2 separate regions of the Homo sapiens genome follow, and region 1 is linked to region 2. Evidence: fine-mapped expression QTL. Tissue or cell type: whole blood. Region 2 holds a variant in brackets; the other region holds the start of a gene. All regions are shown on one strand. Distances are from middle to middle.

What was found. PIP is the estimated chance that this variant, and not a neighbour inherited with it, causes the effect.
Region 1: it holds the start of CDV3, and the variant in region 2 is fine-mapped to the expression of CDV3 in whole blood (TOPMed, PIP above 0.99).

What each region holds. Positions count from the first base shown.
Region 1 is chr3:133,571,318-133,576,464 of GRCh38, reverse strand. It overlaps CDV3 (CDV3 homolog), which reads right to left and starts at 2,779. Exons shown (of 5, transcript NM_017548.5): 1 at 2,181-2,779; 2 at 1,350-1,426. The coding sequence starts at 2,420. RefSeq lists silencers at 1,811-2,200, 2,231-2,340, 2,361-2,900 and enhancers at 3,281-3,450, 3,107-3,608, 3,551-3,790.
Region 2 is chr3:133,701,054-133,706,200 of GRCh38, reverse strand. It overlaps a transcript of TF not described here and the pseudogene INHCAP. Among named protein-coding and RNA genes, the nearest start is that of TOPBP1, 42 kb to the right of the region's middle. The variant A/C (reference allele first, on the strand shown) is at 2,536.

The DNA of each region.
Region 1 (5,147 bases), 130 kb after region 2:
AGCCAAACTTTACAACAGAACCGGAGCCACACACACAGGCAGTTCCACAACACCAAATGGTAAGAACCTCACATTCCCTCCTCCCCATTATTTACAGGTCAAGCCCCAGGAGACAGAAAAGAGAAAGACACATTAAGGAAGCCAACAAGTGGTTGGGAATCAAACTCAAGTCTAATCACTTCTACTCAACACCACTACAAAGAAATCTCAAGAGTGGAGAAGCCATCGTTCCTGAAAGTTTCCCATTATCAATCTGGGGGTTTCACTTTGGTTAAGCTCACAAAATGATGTTTTCACAGTAGGACATTAATGCCTAGCTGTGGTAGGTGTTCAACAAATGTCAATAATATTAACCCTGCTTTTTGAGTAAGTTATCTAAAGCTATAGATACTAACATCCAGAGAAGTCAAAAGACAGTTTTCAGTTAAGGAAAGTATTTCCTCCACTGTGCCTCGCACTCACTGGCATTGCCTATAAAATGCAACCTTCAAACTGGAGACAGTTTATCAAGATCCTTTATTTCTTTAAACCGGGAGCAAAGGATTTTTTCATCTTACAGCAGAACCATATCTTCATTTGTTTTTTCCTACTTTATGAACCCTCCAAAATATAGCACTTACTTAACATCAACCTTAAAGTTGACTGCCATAGACTGGACTTGACAAAATGTTAATTTCAAATCTTCTAAACTACCCAATTTTTAAAAATTACTATTTTTTTGAACTTTAAAAAATAACATGTTTACAAATATAATTCCATTCCTATGAAGTTTTAGAAAAAATTATGGTGTTAGAATAGTGGTTATGTTGAAGGTGAATGCAGTGAGTATGTGTTAGGAGGGGAACCTTGTTCTGTATCAGTAATACTCAGTTTCTTGACCTGGTGCTTATTGCACAGGTTGGTTGCACTGTGTGAACACATAAAACCTCTATCTCTCTGTAAGTATGATATACTTCAATTACAAAAACATATATTCACTTGCTTATTGGAGAGGATGTGAAAAACATCCACATTACTTTTGAAACCAAAACTAAGTACAATCACCGATGTTAAAAGTAAAAATTTTGAAGCGACAAAATCCACTTTAGCTGTCTCAAATGAAAAGTCCTAACCAGAACTGGAAGTAGGCAAGCTCTCACAGGATTTTAGAGTCAGCAGCTAATTTCATGAGCACACGGAAGGGCTGCCTCCATGGAGTGAGAAAGAGTAGACAGAACCCATTTGAGTCCTAATAAGCATATCTAGAGCACAAGGCTACTATGATGCTGCTTTGGGGCCAAAGGAAAACCTAACTTGTATCCAATATCTATCCCAAAGGTTATCTAAACACATTTGTAACCAGACTATACCTTATTTGCATTGCCTGAACCCTGAGGCCGCTGTAATCAACCTCTTTTTGCTCCAATTCTTTCCATTCATCTTCGTCCTGTAAAACAAACGCCATTTGATCAATTAAAGCTATTTGTAGACATATAACTAAGCAAATAACACACTACGAAAAGTGGATCAAGTGGCTGGAACCTAAACTAAGTATGTACTTGTCTTCTGGTCAAAGCCCTTGCTTCGTTCTGGGGCAAACTAGGCTAAATGGAGGACAAACATGCTCGTAGGCTAACACTATACTTCCGCTGGGTTCCTGCATGGGAGCTGTTACTTTAAGCAACTAAGAAAAGCCGAAGGAAGAAGTCAATAGGAATTTCACAACTACATTTCTACTTCAACCTTGCCACCGAGAGTTTTCTTTTTCTTTCACGGGCTTAGAGACTAAGTCATCACAAAAGAGCTGCTACAAATGCGGCTGCTGAAAGCGAAAATTCAGCTCAAACTACTGGGCTGAGGTCAGCACACGGAATTACTCAGCCTAGACGTCACCCGATAAACGCTGCTCTGTGCTGGGCACTGCGGCCCCAGACCTAGTGCCCCCGGAGGGTGGCGCCGCCCGGGCCTTGGCTAACGCCGAGCGACGCGGGGTGGGAAGGGCGGCTCCACCGCGGATATCGGAAGGGGTCCCGGCCCTGGCGAGCCCAGCCCGAGGTGGAGAGCCTGCGTCACGTGGCGGCCCGCGCCCGTCCGCCCGGCCTCCGCGGCCCCTCCCGGACGCTTCCCCGGCAGGCGGGGGCGGGCACATGGGGCGCCGGCGCGCGGCCCGGGCCCCGAGTGCCGGCCTCCCGGCCCCTCACCTTCGTCACAGCCTTGGTGGCGGCCCCTGGGCCCGCAGCCCCCGCGCTGGCGGTCCCGCCGTCACCCGGCCGGGTCCCCGCGCCCGCCCCGCCGCCCGCCGCACCCGCGGCTCCACTGCTTCCGCCGGCGCTGCCCGCTGCGCCCGCGGCACTCGCCGCCCGGTTGCTCCGCTCCTTCTTCTTCTTCTTGTCCCTCTTGGCAAAGAAGTTGTCCAGGCTCCGCTCCTCCGTCTCAGCCATGGCCTCGGCCTCCTCGACCCGGATGGGTGGGGCCGGCGGCGGGCGCGGCCCGCGGGGCTCCGAGCTCGGGGTCGAGGCCGGCTCTGCGCTCACGCTGCCGGGCGCGGCGACGCCTCAGCCCCGCGGGGTCGCCGAGGCGTGCGCGGCGAGACGGGCGGCTCCCCCTGCGTGCTGGCGAGCGGTGGTACGGTCCGCCCGGGGGCTCGCGCGCCGCCGCTGTCGCCCGAGGCTGCCGGGGCTGCCGCTGCTGCTGCGACGGCGGAGCAGGATTCCGCTCTCCCCACAACCTGAGGGGAAAAGGCACGCGCGAGCCAGAGGTTCTGGCGAGAGTGCTCGGCTAGCAGCGGCGCGTGCCGGAGGAAGAGGCGCGCGCGCAGGCCTGGAGAGGAGGGGAAGGGAGTGGGGAGGGGAGGGAGAGGGAGGAGGGAGGGCGGGCCGCTAGAAGAGAGAGGAAGCGCCTGCGCCTGCGTATTTTGCTCTGCCTGCCGCTGTGGGATCGCCAAGGGGCGGGCGGCGGGAGGAGATGGAGGCGGAGCTGGAAAGAGAGCCAATCAGGTGCCAGGACGAAGCTCTTAGGTGACAATCCCTGACCCAGACGGGGCGGAGTCCAAGCATGGGGGCGGGGAGAGGAGGGCATATGCAAAATAAGTGACGTGCCGGGCGACTCCGGTTTCCCGATTGGCCGAGGGTTTAGTCTTGAGGGCGGGCATGTTGAGGGCTGGTTGATGACTTGGCTAAAGAGGTCCAGCAGGAGGGGCAGTGGGTTCCTTTTGGACGCATGCGCAGGATGCACGTGTGTTTCCTGGCCCAGAACAAACCGTGGCCCCATAGTAGTCGTTTGAACTGTCGCGAAACGGACAGGCACTGCGTTAAGCCAACTGTGTTAAAGATTGTTCCTCTCCTCTGATCGCTTCTGTACTTCCACCCCCTCTGGAGTGGCAACCATTACTTTTCTTCTTTACCGGTTGATTGTGAAAGTGAGAGGAGCAGTGAGCCTGAAGTTTAGGTCCCATTTACTAAAAGATCTTTCATAGGCTGGTTGGTAGGTAGAAAGGGATTTTGTCTGAACTCCACCCTCTGGATTATGTTTACCAAGGTCAAGTTCAATAAATCCTATCGTCAAGTCCCTAATCTGTAAAGTGGGTATACTATTTCTTACAAGATAGGGGGATGGAGGGAAGAGAGTCAACATTATTAGCTGCTCAGCACATTGCTTAACGCCCTGACTTGAGTCTAGATGATGATACAGTTTATCCTTAGCTTCTATCCCTGATAAAAGGAGGGGACTGTCTTATCATAGGGGTGGAGACCAAAATGCCCAGGCGAAAGCCAGGTTTAAATGGGTTTAAAGCCCATTTAAATACCCTTGGGGCCTTGAAAATGAAATGAATTCTATATGCAAAAGGTGGTCTAAAGTAAGCTCTTAAACTTTCTACTTCCTCCTTCTAAAAGCAGAAGAGGGAGCTGTCACAACCATTGAGGAAATGACTCAGACAAATGTTGGTAGCCATATGGGGTAGATAGAATCCAGCCAGTAAATGGAGAGACTTCTTCGTCTTTTCCTTTACAGTTACCCCATTAAAGTTTCTCTTTTCCTACCCCCTACTTACACTGCTATTAAAGAATTAACTTCTGGCTGGGCGCGGTGGCTCACGCCTGTAATCCCAGCACTTCAGGAGGCCGAGGCAGGCGCATCACCTGAGGTCAGGAGTTCGAGACCAGCCTCACCAAAATAATGAAACCCCGTCTCTACTAAAAACACGAAAATTAGCCGGGCGTAGTGGCTAACGCCTGTAATCCCAGCTACAGGTTGAGGCTGGAGAATTGCTTGAACCCGGGGGTGCGGAGGTTGCAGTAAGCCGAGATCGCCTCATTGCAATCCAGCCTGGGCAACAACAGTGAAACTCCGTCTCAAAAAAAAAAAAAAAGTCTAACTTCTGAATGTCAAAAGAAATCAAGGACCTAGCCTTGGCCAGCAAGTAGCTTGAGCTTATACATATACTATTCCCCAAACATGAACAGCTCCCAAGGTGACTTCCTTCTATGACAACATATATCTTCCTGTGATGCAGGCCAGGTTCAGTACTGCCCATCACCATCACCCTCCCTTACCATCGCTAATCAAATTTATTTTCTTTCTTTTTTTTCTTTCCTTCTTTTTTCTCCCTTCCTCTTTTCTTTCCTTCTTTTCTTCCTCCCCCCTCTTTCTTCCTTCCTCCCTCCCTCTCTTTCATTTATTTATTTATTTATTTACTTACTTATTTTTTGAGGCAAAGTCTTGCTCTTGTCACCAGGCTGGAGTGCAATGGCATGTCAGCTCGCTGCAACCTCTGCCTCCCAGGATCAAGCGATTCTCCTGCCTTAGCCTCCTGAGTAGCTGGGATTACAGGCACCCGCCACCACACCCAGCTAATTTTTGTATTTTTAGTAGAGACGGGGTTTCACCATGTTGGCCAGGCTGGTCTCAAACTCCTGACCCTCGTGATCCACCCACCTCAGCCTCCCAAAGTGCTGGAATTACAGGTGTGAGCCACCATGCCCGGCCCTCTCCCTCTCTTTCTTTCCTCATCTATGAAGCACTTATTTTGCTATATTTCGGGCAAAGTGCTTTATTCAAAAGTGAGTAATTTGTGATTCCTGCATTCAATTCCCTTATAATCTAGAAGAGAAGATCTAGATATAAATAAGTTTCAGTTATTTATATCTTTCTTAAGTCCTTATCAATTC
Region 2 (5,147 bases):
TGTGGACCTTCACACAGAGATGGGCAGGCAGCATGTGCTCAGGCGCAGTGTGGTGCCAGGAAGGGCCTGGGGTTTCCAGCCATTCCTCCTCTTCTGAAACCCAGGTGCAGCCGCCTCCTGGCAGTGTGGCCCTGGGCAAGTCACTCAGTCCCTGAGTCTCAGACTCCAGCTCCATAACATGAGACAACAATGCCCACATACTCCAGGGTTGCTGAGAAGAGGGAACAGGAATAGTGCAAACAGGAGTCCTTTGCCAACTATAAAGTGCCCTGCAAATAGTATTATTACACCCCAGGATAGGTTTGCATCTTAACAATTAACTGTGAATTTTTTTCCACCTCCAGTCATTTTTATTTGTTTTTAAGCTTTCCTCTCCCCAACAATGGGCCTTTACCTTTGAGCCAGTATTACTGATTCTAACTCACCTTCCATGGGTAAATTCACACACTTAGACCTAAACTGCTCTAAAAAGAAAAAGAAAAACAATCAAGGTACATGACATTAAACCCTCACATTACTCCATCCAAAGTCAGGAGCTTCTCAATCTCAATAGTCAATAATAATATGAGCAAGGTATCATTGGGTATCAGTGGGTTAAGGTTCTGCAAGCCCATTTTACCCTCTTCTGCTCTTTCCTATTTGAAGATAGGTTCCATCCCAAAATCTCCCCAGTACTCTAGCAGATGCAGGCAAAGAAAGTGGAGGTGCTCATTGAAGGGAAAGAGAGGGAGAGGTCATATCCCTTTGCATTAGCTGTGTAATAAGTCATCCTGATATCTTTCTTCCCTTCAGAGTCTTAGACTGTGGTAGGCAATCATTATTTTTGCTATACGGGAGGGAAAGAACCCAGTCCAGGGAGTCAGAAAGATCTGGATTCAGTCTTTATTCTACAATGGAAACATCATTTATCCTTTTTTTTTTTTTTTGAGATGGAGTTTTGCTGTTGTTGCCCAGGCTGGAGTGCAATGGCACGATCTCAGCTCACTGCAACCTCTGCCTCCCAGGTTCAAGCGATTCTCCTGCCTCAGCCTCCCTGTAGCTGGGATTACAGGCACCTGCTGCCATGCCCTGCTAATTTTTGTATTTTTAGTAGAGACAGGGTTTCGCCATGTTGGCCAGGCTGGTCTCGAACTCCTGACCTCACGTGATCCACCCACCTCAGTGTCCCAAAGTGCTGGGATTACAGGTGTGAGCCACCACGCCCGACCCATCACTTATCTTTTCTAAGCCTCAGTTTTTACAGCTATAAAATGGAGATACCACTATTTACCTCACAGAGTCGTTTTGTTTTGAAAGATAATGTAGCAGATGAGGTGTAATCAATGATATTAGGGAAACCCTCTTTTACACCAGCTTCATTTTTCCATGTGGATGGATCCCCACTAAAGAACATGACCTTGCAGCCCCACCTTCTCAACCACCCAGTGCATCTGGGTGAAGGATCATGAGCACATGTGGCTCAGCCCCTCTTTCTTTCTTGAAGACAATGGGGAGAGAGTTGTTTGGGTCTTCTCACCTATGATAAAATGTGTTTCCCTTTGCCCTTAGTCTTGGCATAAGCCATCAGACCCATTTTCCTGAACTAGTGGGCAACTTTAAGGTAAGGGTGACTTGCAGCCCCGTGCCAGCTCTACATCACACACTCCAGTATCACAATCTCAGAAGTAAAGGTGTTATTTTGATCTCTTTCTGCCTGATTCCTTTGTCTATATCTTAATTGTTTCTGGCTCCAGGAGAGGGAGACTTTTTTTTTCTACTAGCTCCATACATTCCAACAATAGTTATTATCTCAACACTAAACTAAGTTATTTCCTCATCTTTCTATGCCCACAGCCCAGGGGAACTGTGGACAGAAAAAATGGAGACGGACACTCCCCTCCACTTACTGTAGTTCTCTGCCAGGACAGGCACCAGACCACATTTCCCTGCTATGTAGATGAATCCTGCATCCAAGCTCATGGCATCAGCTTCCCCTTTCTGAAGTTAAGAAACAAATCAATAGCACAATAGCTGTCTCCTGGGCCTCTGACCCTCAGAGGTTCTCATTTCACTGGCTTCATGTAAACATCCTTGTGATTAACCAATTGTGGATCACTCAAAGCTTCTGCCATGTAAACACAGGGTTTAGAAAACTGGACATGCTCTTGGCCTGTTGACCTGGGAACAAGTTCCAACCCAGGTCATGCCCCCTGGACATCTCTGTGTCCTCTGATGAGACCCATGCTGCGTCCTGGATATGACCTCACCACCCCTTCTTTGTGGCTATAGTCACTCAACCCAGCAATTAACATGGCCAGACTCAGGAAATGCATTTAACCTGTTTCTATGGGATATGTTTCTTCCAGATAATGGAGTTCAAATCTGTTCCCATAATCCCACTAGCACTGTACTCAGTGCCTGGCACAACAAAGATTTTCAATAAATAATTCATTTCTCTAGATAATACACTAATAATTCACTTATTATTTTAATCAATTAATTTTTCTAATAGAGTAAAAAATGTATACTTATAGATAAGGTCACCAAGATAAAAAC[A/C]TGCATATACATGCTCTTTGTTTTTGACCTTTTCACTACCCTTCTAGAAATCTAAAAACAGTGACTACAGCAGCAAAAACTTACCAAGCCTTATTATGTGCCAGGCTCCTTTCTAAACACTTCACAGTGATTACCTCATATATTCCTCACAAACTTCAATAAGCTAGATACTAGAATTTCCCCTCTTTTATAAATGAAAGCAGAAAGGTTAAATTTGTCCAATCAACAGCGGCTAAGACTTAAACCTAGGCAATTTAATTCCTTGTAACCACTATTCCAGATGGCCTCCAAGATCTGTCTACCCTAAAGCACGTTTCCCTCAATACTATGCTATTTACATGTTTTCATCCATAAGTTGGGTAAAAATTATACCCTATAGGTTTATCATGAAGACTAAATGAGTAATACAGTTTAAGAGCTCATAAACATGCTTGTCACACAGTAACTCCAGAAAAATTAGTTACCATTAATATTAAAGATATACTCAGAAATATAGGCATTTATAGATACAAAGATTTTTCAATCCCACATTGTCTATAATAGCAAAGGATTTGGAAATAACTCAAATATAAACACTGAGAAACTGGTTAAATGGAGGCTAACATACTTGGTGGAATATTACATAGCCATTATTTAAATGAGTGTTTCATTATTTAAGAAAATATACCAACTGTCCCTGGGATTTTGAATAATAATAACAGCTAACACTTAGTTACTGCTAACTATATGCCAGGCAATGTTATATGTACTGAGATTTACTTAATCCTTACAATTGACACATTTAGTAGACTACATAACCATCAAGATCTTAATCTTAGGAATTGGTGCTAGGAAGGTTTACCAAGATGAGGGTCTTCTCAAGTTAAACAAAACAAAATGAAATGGTTGCATAGCCTTCTAAGTTTGTCAAATTTTCATTCTTTATTTATAAGTTTATTTTTTCCTAATCACAAAAATAGTTCTGCTCATAAAGTTAATAACAACACAATTTCATCGCTCAGAGATCATAATAAATAAAATAAATAAAATCATTCACAACTTCGTCACTCAGAGATCATCATCACATAATCTCTGAGTGATGAAGTTGTGAATGATTTTATTTTTACTTTCTGATTTTTTTAGAGACAGGGTCTTGCTCTGTCACCCAGGCTAGAGTGCAATGGTGTGACCATGGCTCACTGCAGCCCTATTTTTATTTATTTATTGTAATATTTTATAACCAGAAAAAATAAACTTACAATTAAAGGATTGAAAAGGTTGATCTGCTTTCACAATTCACAGTAGCCCTGACCATAGCCCGGAATGTCACCCTACTTCCTGGGACTCCTAGGCAAGACACTCCCCTGAGCTAACTGGACTCCAGAGCTGAGCCCCCCAGGAGTCCAGCTCTTGGATTGGCTCTGTGTTTCTGCCCTGCCCAGAGCTGGAGGGGCCTGTGGGGTGGGTGGGAGGCAGCACACAACAGGTGTCCTTATCCTGGAGGCTGAGGAAGAGGCATTTGGGAAGGAGAGCTTCAATGCCAGATTTGGCAGAAGTGCTGTGTGTCTGAGTGTCTGAGCCCAGCCTTAAAAGCAGGGCCCTCCAACTGTGATGGCAGTGATGCAGTCCTCTGGGGTCTCCTCCATGGTGCACGCCAAGGCACCACCAGTCACAGCACTCCACTCATCACACTTGGCCCTCTCATGGTGGCCCACTGCGCACCACCGCACCCTGGGGAGTCTTCCACATCTAGGCCGGGTGGAGGGATCCAAAGGAAGCCCCAGGTAGGTCTGGGAGCTTAGCGCTGCAGAGTGGCTGTCCAACAAGGCCTTCACTGGCAGCAGCAGAGCTGACATGTCTCATTCCCATGACACTGCTAATTCCTGCCTGTCACCCTCCAGGAGAAATGGGGAACTCACTTCTCAGAAAAATCAATCAGTGAAGACAGAGCTTCCCCCTGCTCCTGACCTCAGCTCCTCAGGCATCACCTCCCCAGGGAGGCCTCTCTGAGCACCAGCCCAGCTCAGGGTCTTCTGGGGTTTTCTCTTGCAAGACTGGGCTCCCCATCCAGGAAGCATGTCCCACTTGGCAGTCACGAGTTCTGTTCTGGGTGGGCCTGCTTGCTCTCCCCTCACCCAGTGTCTTTGCTCACCACCATATGCCCACGTCTAACACAGTGGCTGCCCTTCTGTAGATGCAAATACCTACTGGTTGACTAAATGGAGGGCAAAGCTAGAAGAAGGAAAGAAGGAAGAAATAAACCATAGAGATCCAGTAGATGGCCAGACCAGAAACCTCTGGATGGTGGTAGTGGCCACATTCCCACTTCAGTTTAAGATGGACTATTTTTATACTCCATGTCGAATAGACTCACCCTGGGTGGGATGACCCCACCTAATAAAAAGGAGCCAGGGCAATCATGTCTTCAAGTTTTCTAGAATATGAAGGCCATTAAAGCCACTTTCTAATCACAGAAAACCCCCTCATTAACCCAATGCAGTTAGTAGCTCCCTTGGGCTCTGCAGGCCAATAAACTTTGGGTGAAGCTTGCAGGCACCTGGAAAGCCTCCCATGATGGCCCCACCCCACCCTGCTGCCCAAGCTGGCCAGGTCCCTCCCGGGACCTTACATAC